Homo sapiens: one gene and its partner. The protein of the gene in region 1 interacts with the protein of each later gene in a pairwise test. Each region holds a gene or a part of one and is shown on either strand. Other genes may lie near its edges.

Region 1 (7,000 bases):
TGTGCTCGGCACAGGTAAGCACCAGTTAAAGAAACTGGGTAACAGGACAAATGCTTATCTACACAGACAAGACTCCTGAAGTTATAAACCACAGACTATGGTCTACACAGCTCATATCAGGTGCTGTGCCCAGGGCTTGGGACCTACCAGCACATTTAACCCTGTAAGGTAGATTATTATTATACCCATTTTCCAGGTAAGGAAACTGAAGCATGGATTTACATAGAGGTGGGGGCGGGGCTGGACAGAGGTACCAAAGCTCACAGCTTCTAGAAGGATGTTCTGTGCATGAGGCAGTGGCTATGACCCTGCTGGACTAATTCAAGGACATGCTCTCCCCAAATTGTGCCTCTGCATCTCACCGAGATGGCTCAGTTCTGTGCCTGGCTACTCCACAGCCCCCGGAAAGCACTGGTCAGCAGACTCCCAGGCCATAGCCCAGTGGCTGGCGAGCCCGGAGGCTTAGCCTCATGACCCAGGCCTCCCAGAACTGAGACCCTGTGAGCATGGCGGCTGCCGGGCACAAGGAGGCCTCAAGAACAGGCTCCAGCCAGAGGCCTGCGCGACCTGGATGAGATCCTGAACCTCCCAGCCTCAGTCTCCTCATCTGTGAAGCCGGAGTGAAAACAACCCCCCAGCTCAAAGGGCTGCCAGGAAATAGACAAGAGCTTCATGGACAGGGCATTGCCATCTCGACAGTTTTCCTGCCTGGGTGAGCACCGACCTCTGCTACCCACAAAACTGTCCCATGCAGTCCTCAGCCAGCACGCTTCTATCCCTGCCCCATTTCCTCCCCTGCCCAGAGGCCCAGCCCTAACGTTCTGTGGCCCATCTGATGAGACCAGCTGCTCGCCTCCCACAGAACCAGCCAATGCTGGAAGATGCCCCAGCTTCCTTGTTCAGAAGATGCCGTCACCACGCCTGAGCGTCACTTCCAGGGGCAGCTGGCAGAAGTGCAGCCAGGGTCCTTAGCCGCTGAGACTACACACAAAGGCCACCTCTGCCCACCGCGGGGAGGCCCCCAGTCTGGAGCACACAAGCTACCTGAGCCCGCGAAATGGGAACAGCTGCATCCACCTAGAGGTGGTGGGCAGGGGAGCCTGAGATGAGGCTCTGAGAGGCTCCACCACTCCACCTGCAGCCCCAAAAGAGAGGCAGCGCTGGGACAGACGCTGGCCTGTCCCTCACTGTCTCTCCTGCACAGTTACAGCCTCAAAGAGTACTCTGTCTACTTGCTGGTCCAGTCCAAGAAAAGTGGCCTCAAAAGAGGCCACTCGCCAGCTCCTGACCAAATGGTGAGGAGGAGAAATTGGGGCCTCGACTTCCACACCAGGTCCTGCTCATCCTCAGAACCGGGCCTAGACTTCCACACGAGGTCCTGCTCATCCTCGGAACGGAGCCTCGACTTCCACACCAGGTCCTGCTCATCCTCAGAACCAGGCCTAGACTTCCACACCAGGTCCTGCTCATCCTCGGAACGGAGCCTAGACTTCCACACCAGGTCCTGCTCATCCTTGGAACCAGGCCTAGACTTCCACACCAGGTCCTGCTCATCCTCGAAACCCCGCAACCCTGCTTGGGTTATCTGGGCTTTGTCTTCAAACAGTGCCCACGCCCCTCTCAGCCCGGACCACCCCGTACCTGAATGGTGCGCGTCGTAGGTGGTGTACCCCGTCACCAGCGGCACGCCTGCAGGAGAAACAGAAAAGCAAGCTCAGAGCCACCCAGGTGTGGTGTACAGGGAGTAACCCCAATCGCTCCTTCTCCAAAAGTCCCTTAAAAGGCTGCACATGGCGTGCCAGAGGCTCCAGGGAGCACAGGCTTCCGCTGAATTCAGTGCTTTTCCCCACCAGAGCAGAGAGCCATTGTTTCACAAATGCAGAAAACCAGAGTGGCAAGTCGGGGGGACTTCCTCTATGCTGTGGGATTTCTGACCATGTGTCAATGTGACACTGTGGGGCCACATTTCCTTCCCACCTCAAGCACTTACCCCCAGAATACCACTGGACTGCATACCCACCACCCAGGGCTTATCTCTGGGGGAGAGCCTGGGGGTGCAAGCTAGCTTTCCGGATGGTGTTCCTGCAGCACAGACAGAGGTGCCTTTCCAGGGACCTCTTACTCGACACCCAAGGCCTGGCAACCTTCAAGGCCTCCGGGGCCAGCTGCCACCTCCCAGACTCCCACAGGGGATGTAGGGCTAGGGGGAAGACGCCGAGGGAGGAAGCAAACACATTCACCGGCTGCAGAAGCCTGGGCCTGGCGGGGGCGGGGGCATTTCAAGCAGCTGGGGGTTCTGAGTGGCTCATCAAAAGAGAATCAAAGGATGAATGCCTCACTTAACCCTCGTGACCCCATGGCGCAAGTCCTGGTTTCTCTGTTTTACGGATGAATAAACTGAGGCTCAAGATCTGTAACTTCCCAGCGTGGGATTCAAATCTAGGGCTCTGAACAAACTTCCTGTTCCTGGTCTGAGTTCTCCTCTCCTCCAAATGCCCTGGGCTCTCTTTGGTTCTGAGGGGGTCCTTAATGTCGTAACAGACTGGCCGACCTAAGGGAGTACCCAGGGAGGGGGCGCCAGCGTGGCCAAGAGCTGCATCTTCCCTCTGGCCTTACACAAGTTCACTAGACCCTCTTCCCTGGACTTTCCCAGGAGCGTGGGGAGAGCTGGCATGGACATCACCTAGGGAACAAGCAGCTTGTGCCCTCCTGAGAAGCAGCGGAGAGCAGGGCCAAAGGCACAGCTGGGCTCTGCCCTCATGTTGGGAAACCAGGGCCATCGTTCTTCACCTCTCAGGGCTGAGCTACCTTTAATGAGACATGGATCATGATAGCAACAACCACCCCCACTCCGTCCCTGGCTGGTGGAATGCCGTAAACCCTTCAGGCCATGCCTGGTGACAATTCTAGGCCACCCACCCTCACCTGTGCTGGGCTGCTGCGCCCACCAGTCTGGAAGGAGCTGACTCCGACAGGCCTCCGGCGGGGAAGGGCTCCTTTTGATCATCCCCATGTAATCGTCCACAGAAGGCTGCACAGTCAGGGGAGGGAGAGGAGGGCAGCTCAGTCACTGATCTCCCACCTGGGGCTCCAGTGTTTGTAAAAATGAACAGTTCATGTGTAAGTAAAACCATATTGTCACCTTTATCTCAGGAGACAAAAGTCAAGTTTCACTTTGCAACCTGAAAGGCCCTAGGCCTTAAATCTACCAGGCTTAGCATTCAAACCATGTGGCCAAATTACTAGGCTCTTTGGGGGCCACTAATAAGTTTCTTGGCCCTTTCCACGACCTGCCTGTTGCAGACCCAGTGTTCCAGATTATCCAATTGCCCTCAACGCCCTGGACACGCAGACAAGCTCTGAGACACCAGTGAACAGTGATGCTGGCCAAAGGCTGCCATGCTTTCAAGAATCTCGCTCAACGAGCCACATGCAGATGTTCAATCTCTGGCCCATTCCTTAAAGGAGGCTGATAAATCCAATTATGAAATGTTTTGAAATTGCTTTTCTTGTGACCCCGGTGTGGCAATCCGATTATCTCACTCTCTCAGCTGAGTCAGCAGAAAAGCCTTCTACAGAAAACAGGACATTGGTGGAGGGCCACGAAGCCAAGAATTCACTCAGTCGGCTGCCAAAGACCACCCAGACACTTGGCAGCTGCCTGTGCAGAAGAGCAAGGCCGTTCGGGTAGGTTACATTCTGTTATCTTCATTCTCTGACAGCCAAGCTACTCTTAAGGATTCCATTATTGCTATGTTATTAAGAAGAAGAATTTATGCAGTACTCACACACAACCTTTTGCAAAGGCTGCACGAGGTTTAGTCATGCAAATGTCCACCTTGTAATACCCATGAAAAGCATAGTTAAGAGGCCAAAGACAGAAGAAAAGGGCATCCCAATAGCTGAAATGGGTATACAAAAGCCATGTATTCTTGCCTAAGGAGGCCCCGATTATGCTCTCCCTTGTAGCCTGTTAGGAATTTATGTGCAATGTGAACATGCTTGGTTATCCAGCTTTCCAATCCGTTAAGGAATAAAAACTGCACATTAAAAAGGAAGCAATCAAATAGCCATGAGAGCTGGTACAACAACACCCGCCATCATGACAAGCGCAGGCAGCAAGGAAAGTTTACATTTTGTTCTCTGTAGCCTGCTAGGAAGGCAAGGGAATTCACGATGCCATTTAAAAGACTGCTGTCCAAAGTGTTCGAACAGTTTGGAGCTGGAAGGAACTTCACTGACACATAACCGGCAGCTCAGGCCCAGCCCTAGGGATGAAGGAGGGATCTGGCGTGAGGGGTTGACCTGTCGGCAGAAGCTGGCCTGGGGAGGGGGCGCCCAGCCAGTCCTTCCGTTCCAGATCTGTACAGGTGGAGATGCCACTTCCTCAGCGAGCCCGAGGGTCTGGCTGCCTTCATACAGCAAGAACGGTGCCCCTCCCTGCCAGAAGACATGAGACTCCTCCTGGCAGGGCCAGACCCCTGAAATGCTGCCTCTGCTTACCTCCTTGATCAGCTCGTCGATTTCAGAGCGACCGCACTCCATCTCTGTAACTTCATTCACGCAGCCAGCAGTTGCCACGCCTAGTTTGCCTACAGAAAACCAGACAAACACCATGACACATGGCACGGAGGCATCACAGCCTTTGCTGAAGCCATAATCTACTCTGTAAATGCTGAGTTTAAGGAAACATTAAGTTAGTGAGTGTCTTCATTGGTTTGGGAAAGGCACAGAATTTTTTTCCCATGCTTCAGTCATCTGATCAGCAAAGTCAAAAGAGAGAAGTTGGTGGTGGTGGTGGTGGTGGTTGTTTCTGCTAACACTTTTAAAGGATAAAGACAGCACTTTGGTCTCTTTCTTCTATTTTCTGAGATCCAAAATGAGTCTGTATCAGATATACTTTACAGCAAGCATTTGCTAACTTAAGAAGGTTACATTTATAAGACAGGGCATTTGAAAACACTCACCGATTTCCTGGCAAAACGTGTTGGCAGGTTGGGGTCTTTTTTGTATTGCCAGTTGGCAGGAAATCTCTTTTTGGCCTTTCCAAATATACACATGTGCATCAGTGCACACAGCCATGCACACACACACACCGCAGCACCCTCACTGATGCCCAGTGGGCACCAGCCGTAATCACAAACCGCCTAAAGGTGCACAGTGTCCACAGGGGCACGCTGGGCCAGCCTCTGCTCTTTCCCTTCTCATGCCGCTTCCTCAGTCGACAACTTACCTTATGAAGTTTATCAGTGTGAGACGTATCACAACCAACACTTACAAAAATTCATTATTCCCAGTGACCTACAGAATTTACCCACTGTTTCCTCCTGGCTGAATTTTGATTCCATTTCGATAGATTAAAGAATTCACTGAGAAGCTACTGATGGGGAAGTAGGGAGCAGGTGGGGCGCCCACCATGGAGCCTGCAAACCACTGAGGTTAGAGGCGAGTGGGCCCCTGTAGGCAATTATGCAAATGCTACATTGCTTCACCCCTGAGAACCTCCTGCTGCTTCTTTAACATCACTAGCAGGTGATGCTGGCTGCACCCCATGCTATAAACAAGTTGGGGTCACCTGCCGGTTCAAGCCTGACTGATCTTGGGGGTGGCAGTAGGGGCCAAAAGAAACTTCTCTATTCCTTCAAATCACACTTTACTTTTTGGTGATAAAAAAAATTGTCCAAAACTGGGAAATGAGGCAAAAAGATGACTGCTTAGCCTTTCAGGGTCACCCCAGACTATTATATAGAGGTTTCCTCCTAAAGGGCACCCGATTCTCCAAGGGAAGGTCAGTTTGTTGGCCTTACTATTTAGTATTGACTAGGGTTCACGCTCAGTAGAGTTAGGTGCTAATTGCAGACGATTAGGCTACAAACGCCCCAAACCGCAATTGTACTGTCCGGGTCGGGCATCGGCTTTGGCTCAGCTTTCTCGTTCATGGGCCACATTCACCAGCACCTCGGATTCTCTGTCCACCATCTTTACCATCATGCTGCCTCCTTCATGACGATTACACAACTCTCTGACACAGATTCACTATAGATTTGTTTGAATCACCATTTTAACTTCTTAAAAAATTCTAAGTCAACACCCCCACAGCGGGAAGAGTGCAAACTTCAAACTTCTGCACAGCCCCAAGAAGTTTTGGGGGTTTCTGTTTCTTACAGGCATTCGTGGACTACTCAGAAGCTTAGAAGGAGAAAGCCAGAGTGGGTTATTCTAAAAGCCTCATCAAGTGGCTAAGAAAATCAATGTGTTAAAAGCATGTTCTAAACCAGCGCTGGTAATTAGGTTTTATCTCATAAATCAGCTACAATTCATGGCAGCGGCACAGCACAGGGCTTTGAGAAGCCTTCTGAGGCCAGATCCCAGCTCAGTACTTTGGGATTTATTTTAGTGATGTAGGACCAGGGTGCGGCATGTTTTTGCTGTCCTGCTTTAATCTGTCACAAATGCTTTCTTGGGATTTGAGAGCTGGAAGAAACCTCAGGAATGATCACATCCCGGAGTTCCCAAATAACAATCAGGATCTAGTAACACACTGAGGCATATCCCATCTCCAACAACGAAGGCCATGGTGCCATCTTTGACAACTTCATCTGAGAGCTTTACTCCCAACCCTCATGATCCAGGCCTTCTGTGGTCACCATATTTTCCCCTGGCCTCCTCTGCAAGCTGCTGGAAAATGAAAGGATTCCTCATCAGAAACTGCTGGAGGATGCTTGTTCCTGTCCAGGGAGGCCCTACAAATGTCTGTGGTCAGGCAGCAAGTGGGGCACAGGTTGGGCAGCACCCAATCTCCTCCGCCCTTCCCTCTGAGGTCACTGGAAAGAGATCTCAATTTCTGCTTACACGAAGGAGAGAACTGCTTTGTTTAACTGAAACTATGTGCCCCAGACCCTGTGTCTACCCCAGACCCAAGTTCTGTGGTGAAGGCTACAGGCCAGGGCAGCTTCTGGAAGGTTTCATGCCCATAAAGGATAGTTACATTTTTGCTCTT
Region 2 (16,056 bases), on another chromosome or scaffold:
GACAATTAAAATGAGGCATTTACCTAGCAGTTAGCAGACTTTTTTCCATTTAAAACTTTCCCTACAGTATTATCTTTAAGATTTCCAACTATGAACATTAACTGTATAGGATATAAACACCAACTATGAAATACATATGGCAGAAGCCAACATCAGATTTTATATTTCCTATTCCAAATAGGATTAAGCTAAGATTCTGTAAAACTTCACTGGGAAAAAACTAAACGAGTAAGAATATTTTAGAGTAATATTTTGGGGATCCTGAAGCTGTAAGTTGGGCCTGGATAATCAGTGGTCAAGACTCAATGTCTCAGTTTCCAGTGAGTTTTAAAAACGGATGCGGAAGTGCTGTCCTACAGCAGAGTTTTTAGAAGCAGCCCAGTGAGGATTAGGAGAGGCTCAGGGGCCCAGGGCTCGCCCTTCAACAAACAGCGCTGCTGACCTCCAGCCCCTCAAATCCCTACCACCTGCGGCAGCGATCAATCAGCAAAGCTGCTCCCACCCGCCAGCCGCTTTGAAGTGCAAACTTCTGAGAGAAACCTGGAGACCACCCCCAAGTGTGACCTGGCTCCTGGTCCTAGTAAGACCAGGGAGGTGGGGGGAATGGGATGGAGACGGAGGCACAGCTAGTGACGACATGGGGTGACGACATGGGGTGGGGGTCCCAGTGGAGAAGTATATTTTACGATGTTAATATATATGCTTTATCAGTAAACCGGGAGAGGTGGCGCGTGCCTGTAATCTCAGCACTTTGGGAGACTGAGGCAGGAGGATTGCCTAAGTTCAGGAGTTGGAGACCAGCCTGGGCAACATGGTGAGATCCCGTCTCTACAAAAAATCCAAAATAATTTAGCCGGGTGTGGTGGCAGGTGTCTATGGTCCCAGCCACTCGGGAGGCTGAGGTGGAAGGATCACTTGAGCCTGGGAGGTTGAGGCTGCAGTGAGCTGAGATTGTGGCACTGCTGCTCCAGCTCGGGTGACAGTGCGAGACCTTATCTTGAATAAAATAAAAAATAAAATAAAATGAAATAAAAATTGTGATTCCTGATAAGGGACTGTGGGTGGAACTGTGCCCTGTGCAGAGAGGAAACTCAGCCTTGCTACTAACAGCTCCATCTGCTGAGACTCCAGAGGAGGTTACTGGCAAGAGAAACTCACGGGCTGGTTGCTTCCCTTGCAAATAGACCATAACCCACAGCAGCCATGAAGGGAGTCAGGGCCAGAGCTGCTGTGGTGCCGCACGCACAGTGTTTCATGCCGCCTCACCAGTGCTCACAATGATCCTGGGAGGGGGGACTAATACAGTCACCCCCATTGAGCAGATGAGCAAATCACAGTTTAAGAAGTTGTTGCTGACCTAGGTTGCACAGCCCTGCCCACATTCAAGGCCAAATCCATCACACTCTAAAAACTGTGCCCTTTCCGCTATAGAAAAGGACAAAACTTCTGTGGACAAACAGAATACCGGGTTCAACAGATCCTGAGCCTGTACCAAATGGACAAATTCTCTGTCATCACAGGCACATAACAATCTCTCTTCCTTATACTAATGAGTGCGATAAAACATCGTATAAAACCCAGCAGTGGTTGGCTACGGTGGCACATGACTGTAGTCCCAGCTACTCGAAAGGCTGAAGCAGGAGGATCACTTGAGGCCGGGAGTTCAAGGCTGTAGTGAGCTTTGATTGCACCTATGAGTAACCACTGCACTCCAGCCTGAGCAACAGCGAGACCCTGTTTCTAAAAAAAATAAAAAAATAAAGCAAATCCAAGGCTGGGCACAGTGGCTCACACTTGTAATCCCAACACTGTGGGAGGCCAAGGCAGGCAGATTGCTTGAGCCCCAGAGTTTGAGACTACCCTGGGCAAGATAGTGAGAACCCATCTCTAAAGAATATATAAATTAATTAATTTTAAAAGACTCACACAATCCAGAAGTGAACATTACTAAGCATTAATATATTCACAGTTTGCTGCTGCCAGATGAACTGCAAAATGAAAACTATGAAACAACTCCATTTCTGGCAAAGGTGCCCTGGCCAATTCTCCCACCGCAAACAGCCACAAATGCTGACTAAAAATGATAAGACATCTTTTAAAATGCATTAAAGATTGGGAATGATAGTAAGAGGAGTTAAAAATAAAATAAAATGTATCAAAGAACTGATAGGTCAGTAAGTAATACTGAGAGGTCAAAACACATCTAAACAAGGGTTGAAATCCAGAGAGCAAGTGGAGCTTTGAAACCAGGTTTCAAGAAAAGACATTTGCAGAACTGGGCAAGCTTGAGCCCCACCCTCCACCCCATCCCCAGAGGGAGGTCTCACTGAACCTTGGTGGAAAGAAGACAATACAGAAACTGCCTATATCAAATCTTGGTGCTGAACAGAGGAGGGAAAAATCTTCCCTGAGAATGTATAATGATTAGCAGTCCCCCAAAAGGACTACAGCCCAAATTTACACCTTATGAAACACATATTTCAGGCAGATGAAAGTGATCCCAGAAAGAAAAGTATTAAATGCAAGAAGGAAGGAAGAACAATGAAAGTAGTATATATATAAGTGAGCAAACCTAAACAAATGCTGAACTAATGATGCTCATAAAAGTTGTAAAAGGACTGGCACAGTGGCTCACACCTCTAATCCTAGCACTTTGGGAGGCCAAAGCAGGAGGAGTGCTTGAGCCCAGGAGTTCAAGACCAGCCTGTCTTTACCAAAAGAGACCCTGTCTTTACCAAAAAAAAAAAAGTAAAAAGTAAAAATTAGCAGGGTGTGGTGGCGAGTGCCTGTGATCCCAGCTACTCGAGAAGCTGAGGCAGGAGGATTGCATAATCCTAGAAGGTCCAGGCTGCAGTAAGCTGCGATTGTGCCACGGCACTCCAGCCTGGACAACAGCGAGACCCTGTCTCTAGAGAGAAAAAAAAAAAAAGGTTTAAAAAGAACTAAAATGCACACCCACAGAATAAAAGTGGAAGAGAAAGTGATAGCAATTAAAGTGTTCTCAGGTCCTCACTGTTTGAGAGTAAGGTATAAAGACACTGACTAAATTTAGACTTTGATAAGTTATGTAAATTGAAAGCTATACCACATTTATGGATCAGATGACTCAACATCATAAAAATGTCAGCTCTACCCAAATTTATATATTATAAACTCAATGCAAATTCTAATAAAACATACCAACAATTTTTATGGCATTTGACAAATGTAATCTAACATGACAATGGGGCCAGGCAAGATGGCTCACGCCTGTAATCCCAACACGTTGGGAGGCTGAGGTGGGAGGATTGCTTGAGCCCAGGAATTCAAGACTAGCTTGGGCTACATGGTGAAACCCTGTCTCTACAAAAAAGACAAAAATAGCTGAGCGTGGTGGCGTGTGCCTCTAGTCTCAGCTACTTGGGAGGCTGAGGCGGAAGGATAGCTTAAGCCTGGGAGGTCAAGGCTGTAGTGAGCCAAGATCACACCACTGCACTACAGCCTGGGTGACAGAGCGAGACCCTGTCTCAGAAAAAAATAAAATGAAAATGGAAGAGCAATGGGCCAAGGATTTACTAGACACCAGTTCACCAGTTTTCTAAAATGATGTATTTTACAAGTCAGTGTGGTATTTAAACAGAGAACAGGCCGGGCACGGTGGCTCACGCCTATAATCCCAGCACTTTGGGAGGCCGAGATGGGTGGATCATGAGGTCAGGAGTTCAAGACCAGCCTGGCCAAGATGCTGAAACCCCGTCTACTAAAAATAAAAAAAAATTAGCCAGGCGTGGTGGCACGCATCTGTAATCCCAGCTACTCAGGAGGCTGAGGCAGGAGAATCGCTTGAACCTGGGAGGCGGAGTTTGCAGTGAGCTGAGATCGCGCCACTGCACTCCAGCCGGGGCAACAGAGTGAGACTCCGTATCAAAAAAAAAAAAAAAAGAATTTCTGCTCATCAAAAACAAAAAACAATATCCTACAGTGAAAAGACAAGCCACAAACTGGAAGTAGGTAGTTATAACACATATAACTGACAAAGAATTAGTATCCAAAATAAGAAATAAAAAACAAAAAACTAACAAAATGTCTACAAACCACCCAATAGAAAAATGAGCAAGACAATCTGTTGTTTCCGAGAAGATGAAATCTGAATGATCAGTAAGCAACGAAAAGATGCCCAACTCAGAACCAGGAAAATGCAAATCAAAACCACATGAGATGTCATTGTACGCCCACCAGATTAGTAAAAATGTTGAAGTCTGAAAATACCATTGTTGAGAGGATATGAGGCAAACGGAATTGTTGAAGGGTAAACTGGGGAAACAGTTTTGGCAACAACTTGGCATTATTTGTTAAGTTGAAGACGCACATACCCTGTGACTCCACTCCCAGCTGCAGTCCCTGGAGAGGCTGTGCATACATGTCCCGGGAATGTGAACAGTGGCACTGTTTGTCTCAGCAAAATACTGGAAACAACCCAAATGTCCACCAGTAATAGAAAGGATAAATAAATTCTCATACAATGGAACATTATTCATCTGTGAAAATGAAATACCACTCTATGCAACGTGGATTAATGTCAAGGCACTGAAGAAAACAATATGATTATATTAAGTTCAAAAACCTGCAGAATTAAACGGTACATTGTTTAGCAATACAAACACATGGTAAAACTATAAAGAAAAGCAAGAGTGATAAAAGCAAAACTCAGGGATGACTTGGGCCGGGTGAGATCAGGGAGGGGACACAGGGGACTCCAAAGGTAACAGTAAGTTCTTTTTGGAAACTGGGTAATGGGTACATGGAAGATGTTTCTTGTATCCTTATTCTTTACACTGAACACATTCTTTTGTATGGAGTCAACATTTAACAAAAACGATTTACAAAATTAAACAAGTTCTTTCTTACTTTAAATCATTTGCCAAGCATTAATTTGGGCTGCTGACTGAGTCACAGTAACGGGGGAAAATCCCTGAGGGGCCCACATGGCCCCGAGACTACAGAAATGAGAAGTGCTTTGCTCTCTGAGCTCTGGTGATACAGCTTCCCATGGGGCAGGCTGGCGAAATTCGAGTGGAGCCTGCCACTCGGGACAGGAAAGTGACTGCTTAGGTTAATAAGTTCCAGTATAGGAAGTGGTGCGGCTGGGGTGGGGAGAACAGATTCTACTGCCAGACCTTTCAAGACCAGAAGCTGAGTAGATTTTTGATGTTACAATGAACCCACTAAGCCTGCTTTCTGGCCCGCTCTCCACTCGCAGCGGGAATTCCCACCTCTGAGCCTCTGTCCACACTGCTGTTTAGATATGAGTGAACAACTCTCAGTTCTAACCATGCCCTTTGCTTCCTTCCTTTGAAGCCCAGCCCTACGAACCATCTCTCTTCAATTCATAACAAGCACGTTTGAATCCAAGAGCCTAAGCCCCAGTTTTCTACACGTATCTGTGCTGACTGCATTACTGAGGTCAACCTTAATCACCCTGGGACTGTCAAACTATTGATGTCCATAAGGATTCTCTGTGCTGGCATTCCACACACACGCAGCAAGGTTCAATGAGCCACAGTACTTACTCTCTGACCTCTATTATTTCAACCATTTAAAAATTGTGGCCACGGGAGGCTGAGGTGGGAGGATCGCTTGAGCCCTGGAGGTCGAGGCTGCAGTGAGCTATAATCCCAGCACTGCACTCCAACCTGGGCGAAAGAGCGAGACCCTGTCTCAAAAATTAAATTAATTAATTAATTAATTAAAAAACAAAAAAAAAAGCCGTGGCCAGCAAAAGAAGTAGATTATGATCTCCAGGACAATATGTTTTGTACATAAAATGTATTTGGAGTTTTTTGTTTTCATTAAAGTTGAGGTCCCTCCCTACTGTGATGTCAAACCCAACAATGGGTCACCCCACAGGACACCACCCCTGCTCGCACCTGTAATCCCAGTCCTTTGGGATGGCGCAGGTAGGTGGATCACTTGAGCCCAGGAGTTCAAGACCAGCCTGGGCAACGTGGCGAAACCCTATCTCCACAAAAAACAGAAAAATTAGCTAGGTGTGGTGGTGTGTGCTAGTAGTCCCAGCTACTTGGGGGGCTGAGTCAGGAAGATCGCTTGAGCCAGGGAGGTCGAGGCTGCAGTGAGCTATGACAGCTCCACTGCTCTCTAGCCTTGGCCACAGAGCAAGGCCCTAATTAAAAAAAAAAAGTGTTATATGAGGCTGGGTTTGGTGGTTCAAGCCTATAATACCAGCACTTTGGAAGGCTGAGATAGATGGATTGCTTGCGCCCAGGAGTTTGGGACCAGCCTGGGCAACACGGCGAGATTCTGTCTCTACCAAAAAAAAAAAAAGTTTCCTGGGAGGAGAGGGGGGTAACTTACTTTCCACAGGTACACGCTTGAGAACCTTCTGATTTTTCTACCTTGTGCATGCATTCCCATAGTAAATGTTGTTTTCTTCCTAAACTCTGCATATTTTCTTTTTTGACCCTCAAGAGTCTTCTATCAAATAACAGTAATTATGGAGCCAGGGACTCGACTAAGCACTTTACATGCATGACCTTATTAATAATTCCACCCAATAAAGTTATATTCAAGGTAACTATTATCCACATTTTACAACTGAGGAAACTGAGGGTTAGAAAGGTCAAGTACTTTGCCCAAGGGCATACAGCTAGTAATTATAAGAAGCAAACATAAGCCCACATACGCCTGGCTTAGGAGTTTGTGTTCCTAACTGCTACCCTATACTGCAGGGGTTTCTTAACTGGGGGTGATTTTGTGCCAGGAGATATTTGGCAATATCTGGAGACATTCTGGGGTGTCACCACTGGAGAAGAGTTACCACTGGCATCTATGGGGAGAGGCCAGAGACGCTACAGAAACCCACCCCCCACAACAAAGACTTATCTGGCCCCAAATGTCAGAAGTGTCAAGGTTGAGAAACCCTGCTATACTGGAACAAGACAAAAAGACAGAGAAACCATCTTCTGACCAAAACTCTCACAGTTAAGGTCAGAGTTCACCATGTCTATTTCCCATATGACAGCCAAATGCCCAATAAACAAGAAGCATGCTCAGCCCTCAATTACATGGAGTTTTCTCCAGCCCCAAATGCCAGTTCCTCCTCAGCCAATCAAGGCTGATCATCCACTCATCCGACACTTGCTGAGCGCCAGCTGTGTGCCAGGAAACAAGCTACACAGTGGCAGTACCAGGATAAATAAGACCCTGTCCTGCATCCAAGATGCTGGCGGTCTCATGGGAAGGCAGGCAAGGAAGCCTCGGATCATAATTGAGGTGAAAATGTGTTAATAGAGATCAAAAACAGGATGCTAAGAAGTCGCAGGGGAGGGGCTCCAAACTCACTTGGGTTGGGGGAACTGGGAATGGCTCAGAAAAGGCTTCCCAGAAGCATCTGAACTTGAAGGAATTAAACAGGCAGAGAGAATCCTCAAAACACCCCTTACCAGATCTCTCAGGATATGGTCTCTGAGTAGCCAAGGTTTGATGACTTTAATTAGAAAGCTTGGGGGAACTCTCCCAGAAAACAGAAGGGGCACAGAGTAGTCCTTGACTGTCCATGCACAACCTGGATAGCCCCTGCCACAGGGCAGGATGGCAACCTGGCGTCCCCACAGGTTTGGGCCTTCCTCAACTTCAAACCTGACTGGCCTCCAGCTTCCAACCAGCCTGTACCTTGCAGCAGGAGGTAAGTAACATTTCATAAATGTCCACTATACCAGGGGTTCCCAACCCCTGGGCCACAAACCACTGCTGGTCCGTGGCCTGTTAGGAAGTGGGCTACATGGCAGGTGAGTGGCGGGCGAGTGAGCACGCAAGTGAGCGAAGCTTCAACCTGTATTTACAGCCGCTCCCCATCACTTGCCATTACCACCTAAGCTCCGCTTCCTGTCAGATCAGCAGCAGCATTAGATACTCACAGGAGCTCAATCCCTATTGTGAGCTGCACATGTGAAGGATCTAGGTTGTGAGCTTCTCATGAAAATCTAATGCCTGATGATCTGTCACTGTCTTCCATCAACCCCAGATGGGATCGTCTAGTTGCAGGAAAAGCAGCTCAGGACTCCCACTGACTCTACATGATGGTGAGTTGTACAATTATTTCATTATATATTACAATGTAATAGTAATAGAAATAAAGTACATAATAAATGTAAGGTGTTTAAGTCAACCTGAAACCACCTCCCACCCCCCACCCCTCAGCCCCCTTTCTGTGATAAAATTGTCTCCTACAAAACCGGTCCCTGGTGCCAAAAAGGTTGGGGGCTGCGGGCCATGCCACGGCTGGTGGTCCTAGGTGCACGGGGGCCGAGGGGGCACGAGGCAGTAGTGTGGGGACTCCAGGTCCCAGAGGCCGCTCATGGGGTGGGAAGTGTGAGGCCGCTGCCTGCCTGGGCCTCGGAGGGTGGGGGGAGCAGGGCAGGGAGATGATAAATTGACCATTATCTCAGGATGTCTCTTTCTGACTGCCAATATCTTCGCCATCGCCAGCATCACCAACCCAGACTGGCTCAACACCAGGGAGTCTGTGGGAGCACTCACTGTGGGCCTCATGGGACAGTGTCAAACAATGCGTGGACGAGAGGGGATGTGCATCCCTCCCCAGCTTCCCCTGGAGTGGGTCACCATGCTGTTTTTTATCATCATGGGAATCATTTCATTGACTGTAAAATTCCCCTTAGACAGACGGAGGCAGCTAGGACTCTGGAGTCAGGTGTGAATCTGCCCTCCCATTGATTGTCACATGTGGTTTGCTGGTGGCTTCCCACTGGGGAAGAGAAGCTACAAAATATGTTCGATGGATAGCATTCACTGGGATGATGCTTTTCTGTATGGCTGCCGTCATATTTCCAATAGGATTTTACATCAATGAAGTCAGAGGTCAACCTTATAAATTACCCAACACCACAGTAGTTGGGTCATCATATGTACCTTTTGTCTTATCAATTTCTTTACAATAGTAGGACTTCTATTTGCTGCCAAGTTTATTTGCCAAGCTGATAAATGTCTAAATTGCTTGACTCTCACTTATTTTTGAAGGGTGAGGAGGACAAAGGCGAGACATCTGAGCAGCCCTCATGGGAAGATGCTCACATGAAACTGATGCTGAGAAGGAAAAATAAAAAAAGTTTTGATTTGCTCTCACTATGCACTTTGGACTTAAAGAAGAAAAAAAAAAAAAAGGAAGAGCCTTTTTGTTTTATTTTTGAGACAGAGTCTCACTCTGTCACCTAAGCTAGAATGCAGTGGCGTGATCTCAGCTCACTGCAACCTCCGCCTCCCGGGTTCTCCTGCCTCAGCCTCCCGAGTAGCTGGGACTACAGGCACCCACCACCACACCCAGCTAATTTTTTTTTTTTCTCTTGAGATGGAGTCTCGTTCTGTCACCCAGGCTGGAGTGCAGTGGCGTGATCTCGGCTCACTGCAACCTCCGCTTCCCAGGTTCAAGTGATTCTCTTGCCTCAGACTCCTGAGTAGCTGGGATTACAGGCGCCTGCCACTGCGCCCAGCTAATTTTTGTATTTTTAGTAGAGACGGAGTTTCACCATGTTAGCCAGGATGGTCTCGATCTCCTGACCTCGTGATCCACCCACCTCAGCCTCCCAAAGTGCTGGGATTACAGGCGTAAGCCACCGCGCCCAGCCAGGAGAGCCTTTTCCATAACCAAATACAGACAATACTGACTAAATCTCCTGAGCATATTCAGGCAGTCAGGTCTGCACTGTGATAGCAACCTAGAGAAGGAGAATGCTTTCTACTGAAAAGCATGTGGCCCTTTGTGACTCTGTTGTTCCATTTTTAATATCTAATGATTCAATAGAGGGAAAAAAAAAGTCTAAGTAGTTATGTATCATGGTGGACCAGAGGGATGCAAGAGAAGTTCATGTGGGGCTGGCCTCACCTCCTGAGAAATCAGTGTTCACAACTTCCTTGTAATAGTATGAGCCTTTGGCACCATTACTGCACCAAGAAGCCAATAGATCAAAACTTGTTTGCTAAAATGTATGTAAAAATTCTGAAATTCCCTATTCTGTGTGTATGAAAAAAAAAAATCAAACACTAAGACACATGTTTTGGGTAGGTAGGTGGGTGGGTGGGGGAAATCTCTCTCTCTCTCTGTATGTGTGTATGTATATATATATATGTACATACACACACAATATATATATATACACACACTATATATATATACACACTATATATATACACACACACTATATATATATACACACACACTATATATATACACACACACTATATATACACACACACTATATATATACACACACTATATATATATACACACACACTATATATATACACACACACTATATATATACACACACACTATATATATACACACACACTATATATATATACACACACACTATATATATACACTATATATATAAAATATATATTTTGCTGACAGAAAAAAAAAAACGAAAAGGTTGGGGAGTGCTGCACTATGCAGCAAACCCTGTGAATTACCTGCCTGACCTCATGTAATTCTCCAGACAATTCTGTGAATTACCTGCCTGTCCTCATGTAATTCTCCAAACAATTCTGTCATCCCTATTTTACAGATGAGGAAACTGAGGCTCAGCAATGAAACTGAGTAAAAGGCTTGCTGTCTGATGTGTCAGAAGACAATCTTGTGATTAGGAAAATTAATAGTCATTACTTTTTTTTTTTTTAACTCTTTGGGACACAGTTTCAGAAGGAACTGACTGTCAGGACACAGAGCCACTCAACGGGAGGGCAGATTCACACCTGACCCCAGAGTCCTAGCTGCCTCTACCTGTCCAAGGGGAATTTTACAGTGATCAGTCCAAAATGCGCGGTTTGCAACATCTTCACCCCCTCAGGAAAGCCTTCCAGCGCCAGTGCATCCTCCCTGTGTGCGCACACCCTCCACCAGCCCTCCAAGGTATTTCCTGCATTGCATTGTGAGGATACACATGGCTGGGAGCACCTGCTCCCGGGATTCAGTCTTACTTGTGCCAGCATCCCTAGCACCCAGCACAATGCCTGACACATGTTGGGCACAGAAACAATGAATGGATAAACAAGCCTGGCCTCCCTGGGCCCAAGCCCTGTAAACCTACCCAAAGCCAGAGCAGCCTGCCTTGGGGACTCAGTGGACCTCCCCTCAGGCTGGGATCACACCCCCAAGAGAGTAATCCAGACAGACTGAGGACAGAGCAGGTTCTCTCAGCCAGCTTTTTCTCCAGCACTGAAACAGTCACAATCTGTTCTTTAGCTGTGCACCAGATGCAGGAACTGGCTTATGTTTGGGAACCATGTTGCACAAAAATCCCACCTTAAACATTAGAACTTTAAAAGGAATGAGTGTGTGCTCGCTGCTCTGTGTCCCTTTTTGCCCTAGGGAGATCATACATGATGGCAGGAGCTACAGCAGCCAGCTTGGACCATGAGATGGAAGCCTAAGTTTGAGCAAGAAAAGCCACATTATCAAAGGAATCCTGCTCCCAGATGATCTCACAGAACACAGCAAGCTGTGCTACCAGCTCTGGACTGTGTACTTCCAGAATGTTAAGGAGCAAGGAATAAACTTCTGTTTCCACCACTGTAGATTTCACCTAACTAAAGGCGTGAGCATTGCCCAGTGATCATCCACTCTGGCCTCTCTCTGCAGGTAAAACAATAATAGTAAGATCAACAATTTCCCAACCAAACTGTAACTGGGATTTTGTCATTACTATATAATTTTGAAGAAAAGGCTATCAGGAAAGAATCATTTGAATCATGTTGAACCTAGAGAAAAAGGACAAACTGATCTGATTTGTTTCATCCTTGAGTATTACAGACATACCTCAGATTTCCAGACAGCCCAGGCTACTCTTTTCTGACAGTTTGCCTGTGTAAACTCCAGCTTGGCTCCCCTCGTCCGGCTCATTACCTGAATCAATGACACACAAGTGGAAAATCTGATGAGAACCTAAAGGGTACCTGCTCCCTCAGAGCTGCCTTTTCATGCATCCATCAAACATAGACAAATACAGAGTGCTTAGCACAGAGCCTGGCCCAAGGAAGTGCTGAATAAATGGCCTGCTCTGTGCCAGATAGCATGCTGACACTGGGACACAAAGATGCACAGACTCAGCCTCAGGCCCTGCTCTCAAGAACTCCAGCTCAATAAGAGACAGGACACAATGTTAAGAAGGAAAAACGACAAGGTTTGTATCCAAGCATTACTGCAGCATTGGCACTGCTCTGGGATATCCTGGACACTTTGTTTCTCATTGCATACCCTACCCTAGGTGAGCTCATCCCCTCCCATGACTTCAGTGACCTTTGATGGTGATAACTACTAGCTGAACAGGTGCACTTGAATGTTTTACAGGCATCCAACTCCAACATGTTCAAAACTAAACATATCTGCCCTCCCCCAGATCTGCTCCCCGTACTGCTCCCTATCACATGGAGCAGCATCCAACACCCATCAGTCAAAAACTGGGGTGATCCTGACTCCTCCCTGCCCCTAACTCTCATCAAACTAATCACCAAATTGTGTCAATTCTATCGCTAAAACCATCTCTCCTCACTCTCTGCCTTTAACTCACACCTTTATTTCTCACTTGGATTATTCTAGCAGGCTCTTAATTGGCCTACAGGCCCACTCCCTTTGATACATTCTTCACTTAGCCAGAGTGATCTTCCTAATCCACAAATCTGATTCGTGGCCAGGCATGGTTGCACATGCCTATAATCCCAGTACTTTGGGAGGCTGAGGCGGGAGGATCATTTGAGGCCAAGAGTTCGAGACCAGTCTGGGCAACATAGTGAGACCCCATCTCTACTAAAAATTTAAAAAATTAGCCAGGTGTTATGGTGCACGCCTGTAGTCCCAGCTAGTTGGGAGGCTGAGGCAGAAGGATCACTTGAGTTCAGATCAAGGCTGCAGTGAACTATGATTATGCTGCCACTGCACTCCAGCCTGGGTGACAGAGCAAGACGTAGTCTCAAAAAAAAAAAACAAAAACAAAAACAAAAAAAACCTGATTCTTTTATTTCAGGCTGGAAATAAAAGAATCCTCCCACCTCAGCCTTCCAAGAAGCTGGGACCACCAGAGGTGTACTCCACCATGCCCGGCTATTTTTTTTTTCCTTTTTTTTTTTTTTTCTTTTAATAAAGATGGGGTCTTGCCATGTTGCCCAGGCTTGTCTCAAACTCCTGGGCTCAAATGATCATCCCACGTTGGCCTCCCAAAGTGCTAGAATTACAGAGTAAGCCACCGCACCTGGCCACAGATCTGATTCTTAAATGGCTTCCCATTAACCTAAAGTTTAAAGTCCTTAACTAGGTTTACAACGTCCCCTAAGACCAGACCACAGCTTGCTGCTGCTTTTTTTTTTTTTCTTTTTTGAGACGGAATCTCGCTCTGTCGCCCAGGCTGGAGTGCAGTGGCGCCGTTTCGGCTCACTGCAACCTCCGCCTCCTGCGTTCGAGCGATTCTCATACCTCAGCCTCCTGAGCAGCTGGGACTACAGGCGCGCGCAAGCACGACCGGCTAATTTTTGTATTTTTAGTAGAGACGGGGGTTTCACCATATTGGCCAGGCTGGTCTCGAACTCCTGACCTCAAGTGATCTGCCCGCCTGGGCCTCCCAAAGTGCTGAGATTACAAGCGTGAGACAACGAGCCCGGCCCAGTCTGCTTCTTTATTTAGCCTGATCTCTCTCTCCTCTCTCTACGAAGATGAGTTTTCTCACAAACTACACCCTTAACTGGGAATACCCGTTTTCCTGCCTCACTCCGCTGAGCTTCCCTTAGATCTTAGCTTTCTGGGGGACAGAAGCCTCCCGGGATTCCCCCTAGGCTGAGTGATGTGTCTCTACTCCGTGCTTCAGAGGAAGGAGGGCTTTCTGCCCTCGCAGCAGTATCAGAATTGCTGATTTACCTGTATGTCTCCCACATGGGTCTCTGAGCTCTGGGTGACAATGGTGATACAATTAATAACAGCAACAAACACACAGCATTTACTTTGTACCCATAAGTGTTCTAGGAGCCTCATTTCCCCTTTATTACAATCTTAGGAGGCTGATTTTATTATCATCTCTGCTTAAAGGATGAATAAACCCAGGCAGAGAGAAAAAGCCAAAAGTGCCTAAGGTCACAGCAGGGAATGGGGATTCAAACCCCGCTGCTGGGCTCCACGGTTCACACTCCTAACTCCAGGATCGAGGATCCTGGAGGATCGAGTCCGCCCGCATCACTCGCTCTAGCTTCACCATCTATCAGGTGCTGAACCACCGTCCGCAGTACGAATGAATGAATGAAATGCTTTTATACAGGGACAGCGTCGGCCTCCTCTGTCAGCTCCTCCTAGGCCCGGGCAGCCCCGCTCCCTCCCGCCCCGGCCGGCCGACAGGAGCTGCCCCGGCACTGCGCTCCCTCGCGGCCGCAGAACGCCCACCCTCGACAGCGCGCGGGGTCAAGGGGCGGTGACAGCCGTGCGGCGGGGGCGGAGATGCTACCAGCTGGGGTGTCATCCAGCCCGGGAGGTGACACGCGCCCCCTCGCCCGGGCGGTCGCCTGGCCGCCCACTCCCCGCCAGCACGCCCGGCGACGCCCCCCGCCCCGCCACCCCACAATCTCCCGCCCAGCGGTGTCCCCTCAGCCCCGGTTGGCGTCCCATTCCACTTCCCTCCCCTCCCCCACACAACCGTCACCGGCGTCCCACCGCGCCCCATCCTCCGCCGCCTCCGCCCCGGCTCCCGGGACTTCCCCGGCCCCGGGCGATTGTTGACACTCACCTGCCATGTCCCGGACCCCACCGCAGAGGGAGGTGCATCACGGCCGCGAGAAGGCCGGGGACGGCACTCCAGAGCAGACAAAGGGCGCCGCCATGTTAGAGTCGGGCGGAACCGACCTCGCAGGCTTCCCGGCTGCAACTTCCGGCGCATGCGCAGCGTCCTCGCTAGGAGAGCGCCCATAGACAGACGCATGCGCCTAGCTATCCAAAAGTTCCACCTTACAGTACTTCGGCGCTCAGAGTTGTCCTCATTGTACCCCTGCCTTGGTTTCTCTTCCAAATATAACAGTAACATCATGTGTTCAGCTCTTACTGTGTGCCAGGCACTGTGTTAAGCGCTTTACATGCATTATCTCTTTAAATCCTCACACCAATTATAAGATAGTATTATTCTCCTAATTTTAAAAAAGGGAAAACAGACTCAAAAAGTGTAAATCAATGTCCATGGTCACATATCTTGTAAGTGGTGGACCGGAGATATGAATCTACTTGTGGCTTCAAAGCTGCAGATCCCAGTTGTGTTTTTCTACCTTCTAAACCGAACATTATCCCCTTCCCTGATTGTCTTGGACGTGAATAAAGGTGTCTGAAAACAAAAGTGTCTGCAGACTTGCATGGCCCCTCCGTGGCCCCTCTTCTACCTTTTTGGTAGCTCTAGGCCACTGACTTCTCCACTTTCTCACAGTCTGAGGGCTTTCTCCTTTGTTTACTTCTAGGCCTGCATATTTTCCATAATCTATAATTTTAACAACACTCTTGCCACTACTGTAAGCTCTTTTGCCCCCTTGCCTTTTTGTCACATGGATTTGGTAAGAATACCAACGCTGTGTGAATCCAAATGCACCTTTTCTCTTTGTTAGCTCCCAAACAGCCAAGCACAGCTGAAGAAAGTATGCAGTGGGGAGACTGTTCCCTAGAGATTCATGTCCACTAGCCTTCAGTGGGATGCAACATATGCCAATCTGGCAACTCACTCCTGTCTTCACAATGGCTAGAGAAACAAAAAAGCCCAGCAGTTGACTTCACCCCTTCTTGTCTTTAGGTTTTTTTTTTTTTTTTGGAGACAGAGTCTCACTCTGTCTTCCAGGCTGGAGTGCAGTGGCGCTGTCTCGGTTCACTGCAAGCTCCGCCTCCCGGGTTCACGCCATTCTCCTGTCTCAGCCTCCAGAGTAGCTGGGACTACAGGCGCCCGCCACAACACCTGGCTAATTTTTTGTATTTTTAGTAGAGACGGGGTTTCACCATGTTAGCCAGGATGGTCTCGATCTTCTGACCTCGTGATC

The links.
Region 2: the proteins of IRF8 (region 1) and ZBTB17 interact in a two-hybrid assay, tested with the Homo sapiens proteins (one study listed by BioGRID).

What each region holds. Positions count from the first base shown.
Region 1 is NC_000016.10:85,909,162-85,916,161, reverse strand, and holds part of IRF8 (interferon regulatory factor 8), read right to left. Parts: coding exon 6,989-7,000; intron 4,593-6,988; coding exon 4,504-4,592; intron 3,032-4,503; coding exon 2,926-3,031; intron 1,690-2,925; coding exon 1,642-1,689; intron 1-1,641. UniProt on the Homo sapiens protein: Transcription factor that specifically binds to the upstream regulatory region of type I interferon (IFN) and IFN-inducible MHC class I genes (the interferon consensus sequence (ICS)). Can both act as a transcriptional activator or repressor.
Region 2 is NC_000001.11:15,961,209-15,977,264, forward strand, and holds the start of ZBTB17 (zinc finger and BTB domain-containing protein 17), read right to left. Parts: upstream 14,894-16,056; 5' UTR 14,775-14,893; intron 11,918-14,774; 5' UTR 11,831-11,917; intron 6,436-11,830; exon of another isoform or gene 1-6,435. UniProt on the Homo sapiens protein: Transcription factor that can function as an activator or repressor depending on its binding partners, and by targeting negative regulators of cell cycle progression.